2 linked regions of the Homo sapiens genome follow. The protein of the gene in region 2 purifies or fractionates together with the protein of the main gene of each other region. This does not show direct contact. Each region holds a gene or a part of one and is shown on either strand. Other genes may lie near its edges.

Evidence for each region. The genes of interacting proteins can lie anywhere in the genome.
Region 1: the proteins of NMI (region 2) and TARS3 purify together in Homo sapiens (affinity purification with mass spectrometry; 3 studies listed by BioGRID and IntAct, with this or other methods). This does not show direct contact.

Annotation. Positions count from the first base shown.
Region 1 is NC_000015.10:101,717,831-101,721,483, forward strand, and holds part of TARS3 (threonine--tRNA ligase 2, cytoplasmic), read right to left. Parts: intron 3,493-3,653; coding exon 3,296-3,492; intron 1-3,295. UniProt on the Homo sapiens protein: Catalyzes the attachment of threonine to tRNA(Thr) in a two-step reaction: threonine is first activated by ATP to form Thr-AMP and then transferred to the acceptor end of tRNA(Thr).
Region 2 is NC_000002.12:151,272,609-151,276,261, forward strand, and holds part of NMI (N-myc-interactor), read right to left. Parts: intron 3,257-3,653; coding exon 3,150-3,256; intron 3,063-3,149; coding exon 2,876-3,062; intron 1-2,875. UniProt on the Homo sapiens protein: Acts as a signaling pathway regulator involved in innate immune system response.

The sequences.
Region 1 (3,653 bases), on a different chromosome or scaffold from region 2:
TTTTTGTGATGTCTTTGTTGTAGCAGCTTAGTATATATCTTAAGTAATACAGAAATAAGGACCTGGAAGTAAAAATCCAAAACAAGTGGCACTGGCTTAACAGACTGGCAGTGAGTAACAAGGAAACAGATTCTAACATATGGAGAGCCAATAACCTTTGTGATAGTATATCAAAATATTTGATAAAACTTGCAGGCAAACCATGTGTCACAGTGCTTGTAGCACACAAGAAAGCAGGTATAAAAGGGGAGAGTAGGGCTGGGCGTGGTGGCTTACATCTGTAATCCCAACATTTTGGGAGGCTGCTGTGGGCAGACCACCTGAGGTTGGAAGTTCGAGACCAGCCTGACTAACATGGAGAAACGCCATCCTTACTAAAAATACAAAATTAGCTGGGTGTGGTGGCGCATGCCTGTAATCTCAACTACTCGGGAGGCTGAGGCAGGAGAATCGCTTGAAACCGGAGGGCGGAGGTTGTGGTGAGCCAAGATCGAGAAAAGGGGCGGGGTGGAGGTGGGGGGACAGTGTTGGTATACCCTGGGTAACTCTTGTTGCTTTCAGCAAGAAGCTACAAGAATGAGTTATCTCAGATGAAAACAATCTAGTTTGCCAGCAGAGGTGGAAGGGATAGGGAGGCTCCCTCTGCCCGTGTCCTGTAATTCAACTGACTAAAAGTTCAGAAACGTGGAGCTATGCAAGATGGGAAAGACAATCTTCTTTCCCAAACCGCAGGAGGGACAGGCATTGATAGCCCTTCTCAAAGGCCACACATAAATCCAGACAATAGAGGCCAGTGGAACTGCAAGGATTAGAGAGCAAGAGTGCCTCCCTCCCACAAGCCTCTGCTTCATATGATCTCAGTCCATTAAACAAGGAGACAGGAGTGAGCCGAATAAAAAAGCCATGCAACAACAGGGTGAGAAGTCTCTATCTAGAAGATTCTTTAAGTGAGATTACTTTCATGTGGAACGGATTAGCTGCAAACAGACCAGAGCCTACTATGGCTAACTGATCATGGTAATTGTATTGCCAAACAAATCATAAGCTCAGCTCACAAATATCTGTGACTATGTGATCCTTAAGGGAACCCTCAGGCCCCAAATGTGCACCACAGAACTGAGCTGTGGAAACTGCACAGATCCCAAGAGGACAAACTCGTGCACTTCAGATGTGACAAGTGAGGGTAATGGACAACTCCGAACTTCCCAAAGTGCAAAATCAGGGCCCATGGAGGATCATGGGATAAGACAGCTGCTTCCAGAGAACAAAGGATGAACAGGTGGGCTGACACAAGCACTAACTGCTGCCAGGCTGTGGGGCCTCAAGGTGGCTTCAAGCAGAATCTGATGACTTCTCTATACCACTCCCTGCTATATTTCTCCTCCTTCTTTTTTCCAAGCACACACTTTGTGATTGTCTTCTGTGTACTGTATGCACGTGTGGTGTGAGCAGACTTGTCTATCAGTTTATTTGTTGCTAGAATACAAGTGGTCAGCCTGATGGGGGGTGTTCTGTACATCACTCAGAAATCCCAGGCTTTGAGCTATGGAACATAAGAGTTGTCTCACTTGGGGAGTGAGTGTGTCAGATGTTGAAAGAAGAGTACCCACAGATATCTGGATGTCAGAGGGGCAGACTGTGGCAGACTCTCTGTTGTTCCATAAACCATTCCTCTCTTCCATGGTATGAATGCTTTAGCTGGACATGTGGCTGGGCGGCCAAGGGAGCTATATTCCAATTCTCTCTTACAGCTAGGCATAGCCATGTGACTAAATGTGAGCTAAGAGGATGTAAGTGGAAACTGAAGCCAGCCACTATGGGGTCTTGGCCTCAAAGCATCATTGCTCTGCAGCTTCTCTTCCTCCTGACTGCAGGCAGGCCCATGCAAGGACCCAGCTTCCACCGCTAGACACAAAGAAACCCTACCTAGGAGACAGCAGATCAACAAGATGGGAGGAAGCTGGGTCCATAAATAACTGCATGGACCAGAGATGTCCACTAGGCTTGACTGGTCACTTCTAGACGGTTAGCTTGCATTAGAAGCCCCTGGAGAGCTCATAAAAACACTGATGGCTGATCAATTCAGGGGGTTTGAGGTGGGATCCCCAAATTTGCTTTTCTAACAAGTTTCCAGGTGATGCCCATGCTGCTGGTCTGGGGACTACACTTTGAGAAATACTGACCCAACACATTTAACATGCAACCTGACTCTCCATGAGAAAACAAACTTATTCTTGCCTCAAAACCTGTTTTCTCCTAGCACATCATTCCTCCTGGAAAACATGAAAACAGGCTGGGAGAGCATTTAACAATATAATAGGATGAATCAGAAATACAATCTTAGCCATAGTTTTCAAAGAAAATCTGAGAATTTCAGTTGTTGAAACAGTTTGCTTTTTAAATGATGAACATTTATTTACATGGCATTAATACAATTGTATAGAAGCTATATAATTGTATTTATACAATAGCTTCTATACAATTGTATTTAATGCTAAGAATTAACATGAGTCAAAACAATATAAGTTCACTAATGTATCTAATTTCTAGAAAAGTCAAAGCACTTTTCCAAGACTGATAATAGCTCTAAAACATTTATCTTCAATCTATACTTAAAAGACCTGTAAAAACTCATGGAAATTACTTGATTGACGAATAAAGTCAGTGTAAAATGGCCTATCAAGAATTACAGATTTTTTTCTCTCCTATATATTTTTATTAGAACAGGAAATGATTGTGTTCTGATATTCAACTACTTATTTACATGGCCCTTGGAGAAGCCAGAGGAAAAAAATTAAATACATTTAATTTATTCAACTGAATAAAAAAAAAATTAGCTGATATGGTTTGGCTGTGTGCCCATCCAAACCTCATCTTGAACTCTAGTTCCCATAATCCCCACGTTTTGTGGAAGGGACCCAGTGGGAGGTAACTGAATCACAGGGGCTGTTACCTCCATGCTGTTCTTTGATAGTGAGTGCATTCTCATGAGATCTGATGGTTTTATAAGGGGTTTTCCCCCCACTTTGCTCTGCACTTCTCCTTGCCGCTGCCATGTGAAGAAGGACATGCTTGCTTCCCCTTCTGCCACGACTGTAAGTTTCCTGAAGCCTCCCCAGCCCTGCGGAACTGTGAGTCAATTAAATCTTCTTCCTTTATAAATAACCCAGTCTCAGACATGTCCTTTTAGTATCGTGAGAATGGAGTAATATATTAGCGGTCCCTAAGAAAACATTTTCACCAGGCTTCAGTATAATTACTTAAGATTGAATATCTTTTCCACACTGCGGTTTACCTAATTTCAGCAGCCACTTGGTAAGGCGTTGTTTTCCAGACTTCCCCTTGCACTGTTTGCCCATCAGCCACTCTTACTGTGATGATGTTGCTTGTATCCCCCTTTTTTCCATAAATGGCAAGTAAGAGCTGATGGTCTTTCTTCAGTATTTCAAAAAGCTTCAATCTTTCTTTTATGAAAATTGGTTGATGCTTCACCTGGAAATTATTAGAACATAATGAGATTAATATATACAGCCTACTGTTTTCCAGCTGCTCAGCTCTGAATCAGGCTCACCCCCTTACTGCCTTCTCAGTTCTACAGATGGTCCCAAGCTTACCATGGTTTGAATTACGATTTTGTTGTTGTTGTTGTTTTT
Region 2 (3,653 bases):
AGATACTTGCTCGTTAATGCTCAGAGCAGTATTTTTCACAATAGGCAAAAGGTGGAAGCAACCCAAGCATCCACCAACAGATGAACAGATCAACAAAATGGATATATAAAATACACACACACACAGAGAATATTATTCAGCCTTTAAAAAGGATGAAATTCTGATACATACCACAACATGGATGGACCCTGATAACATTATGCTAACCAAAATAAGACAGACAGGAAAAGGACAAATATTGTATAATTCCACTTGAATGAGGTACCTAGAATAGGCAAATTCATAGAGACAGAAAGTAGAATGATGGTTACCAGGGGCTGGAAGAAGAGGTAATGGAGAATTATTGTTAAATGGGTACAGAGTTTCAGTTTGGGGTGATTAAAAAGTTCTAGAGATGGATAGTGGTGATGGTTGTACAACATTGTGAATGTACTTAGTACCCTTGAATTGTACATTTAAAAATTGTTAAAATGGTAAATTTTATGTTATATATATTTTATCACAGTTAAAAAAAAAAAAAAGAGTACAGGTCCTGAGTCAAATAGACCAGCTTCAGTCCTAGCTCTGCTACTTATGAGCTATGTGGCCTTGGATATGTTGCTTGACTTCTTAAAGCCTCAGTTTCTTTTTCTGTAAAATAAGCATAATTACAGTACCTACCCTGTAGATTATTGTGATGAGTCAGTAAGACACAGTTTATGAAGTATCTGGCATATTTATCTCCAGAATACCTTCACATCCTTCAGTAGTTACCTGCTGGATAACCTATAACCTGCAGAAGTATTTTTCCCATCTGGCTAGATGTAACCTCTAGGAGAACATCCCCAGATGGCCCAAGGACACAGGTTCCAAAGCTAGTATTATCTCTCACAGTAGAGTTATAAATTGCATTCTAGTTTATTTTATTTTATTTATTTTATTTCGGTTTTTTTGAGACCGAGTCTCACTCTGTCACCCAGGCTGGAGTGCAGTGATGCAATCTCAGCTCCCTGCAACCTCCACCCCCCAGGTTCAAGCAATTCTCCTGCCTCAGCCTCCCAAGTAGTTGGGACTATAGGCGTGAGCCAGCACATCCGCTAATTTTTGTATTTTTGGTGGAGAAGGGGTCTCGCGATGTTGGCCAGGCTGGTCTTGAACTCCTGGCCTCAAGTGATCCACCCGCCTCCGCCTCCCAAAGTGCTGGGATTATAGGCATGAGCCACTGCGCCTGGCCAGATTTTTTAAAATCCAAGATATAGACAAACTAACACCAAACAGGCTAAATGAATATATGAATTTGGCAAATTAAAATCTGGATGCTTGACTATGGAAGTTTCCACCAAGTTATTGTTCATTTCCAAGACAACATATTACTGTAGCCCTCAAGACCCCTTCCTTTTATAGCTCTCCCTGACACATCCCACCAGGATGTCCTAAACATCATCCAAAAGCTCAGGTCAAAAATGCATATTGGGCCAGGAGCGGCGGCTCATGCTTGTAATCCCAGCACTTTGGGAAGCCAAGGCGGGCGTATCACTTGAAGTCAGGAGTTCGAGACCAACCTGACCAACATGGTGAAACCCCGTCTCTACCAAAAATACAAAAATTAGTCAGGCATGGTGGCATGCACTTGTAATTCCAGCTACTCGGGAGGCTGAGGTGGGAGAATTGCTTGAACCCGGGAAGCGGAGGTTGCAGTGAGCTGAGATAGTGCCACTGCACTCCAGCCCGGGCGACAGAGCAAGACTCTGTCTCACAAAAAAAAAAAAAAAAAAAAAAAAAAAAAGGATATTGACATGTTTTAATGTGCCCAGAGAAAAGCCTGGAAAGACACCCAAATAACCATAACTAACTAAATAGTAGGAGAAAGGGAAGTTTGAGGAAATGTCTCTTTTTGTTTTTTTTTGAGACGGAGTCTCACTCTGTCGCCCAAGCTGGAGTGCAGTGGCGTAGTCTCGGCTCACTGCAACCTCCACCTCCTGGGTTCAAGCTATTCTCCTGCCTGAGCCCCCCGAGTAGCTGGGATTACAGGCATGCGCCACCACACCTGGCTAATTTTTTTGTATTTTTAGTAGAGACGGGGTTTCACCATGTTAGTCAGGCTGGTCTCGAACTCCTCACCTCATGATCTGCCTGCCTCGGCCTCCCAAAGTGCTGGGATTACAGGCATGAGCCACCGGGCCCGGCCGAAATGTCTCATTTTTACTAAATGTTTGCTCTTCTGTATTATTTCACCTTCCTTAAAAAAGCATGTATTACTTTGTCATGAAAAAATCTAATCCATCAATTTTTTTTTTTAATTTTGTTTTTTGAGACAGGGTCTCACTCTGTCTCCCAGGCTGTAGTGCAGTGGTGCAATCACAGGTCACTGCAGCCTCAACCTCCTGGCCTCAAGTAATCCTCCCACCTCAGCCTCCTGAGTAGCTGGGACCACAGGCACGCACCACTATGCCTGGTGATCTCAGCTCACTGCAACCTCCACCTCCTGGGTTCAAGTGATTCTCCCTGCCTCAGCCTCCCAAGTAGCTGGGATTACAGGCACTTGCCACCATGCCTGGCTAATTTTTGTATTTTTAGTAGAGATGGGGTTTCGCCATGTTGGACAGGCTGGTCTTGAACTCCTGACCTCAAGTGATCCGCCTGCCTCCGCCTCCCAAAGTGCTGGGATTACAGGGGTGAGCCACTGCACCCTGCCTATTTGTAGCAATATTATCTTTCCTAGTACTGTCCCTGGAAATAATTTCCTACACTCTACTATTTTATAAGGTTTTTTAAAATCCCCAATTATCATGCTAATACATTCCAAATAAAAGAAGTAGAATAGGAATACTTTCAGAAACAACAGAACATGACTGAAATGGCAGAGTGTCTGTTAACCTTCTACACCCTTGAGTACCTCCAATCTCCACAAACGTGATGACTGCACTCCCGGACTGTCTGTCATAGTCCACGCGGTCCACCTCTCCGCCTCCATTTCGGGACTTTGAAAAGCTCAGCTCTAGTTTGTCTCTCATTTGATCTTCACGCAATGTGTCAGGAATTTCAGTAACATTGATTTTCATTTTAGAAACTTCTACATAAACCTGGAAAATGATTTGATGTTCAGAAATATGGATGAGAGAAGTGCTTGTGATGAACAGAAATCCAAAAAATTTTAATCATCCTGTTACCTGGAATCTGACTCCTGAATTTAATGGAACTGGCTTGGCCGTAACCTCCAGATTTACATCTTTTATCTGTACATGATGTTTACTCATGCTTACCACATTTTGAGCAACTGAAAAATAATTCAGGAAGGAAGTATTAATTTCCAATATTTTAAGAATTGTTATGCTTTTGGTTTAAGAACAAATTATCCTGAATATTTTTAATTTTCTTTAATATTAAAGGGTCTAATTTTAAAAATTTGGCGGGCGGTGATTCCAAGTGATAATGGTCTTGCTACCAAAGTAGAATATATAATTTGGGGGGTCAGGGGGAAGGAGGACCAGATCTCATTCTGTCACTGAAGCTGGAATGCAGTGATGTGATCATAGCTCACTGTAACCTCAAACTCCTGGGCTCAAGAGATCCTCCCACCTCAGCTTCCAGAATAGCTATGATTACAGGTGCATGCCACCACGCCTAGCTAATTTTTTTAACTTTTTGTAGAGACGAGCTCTCACTTTGTTACC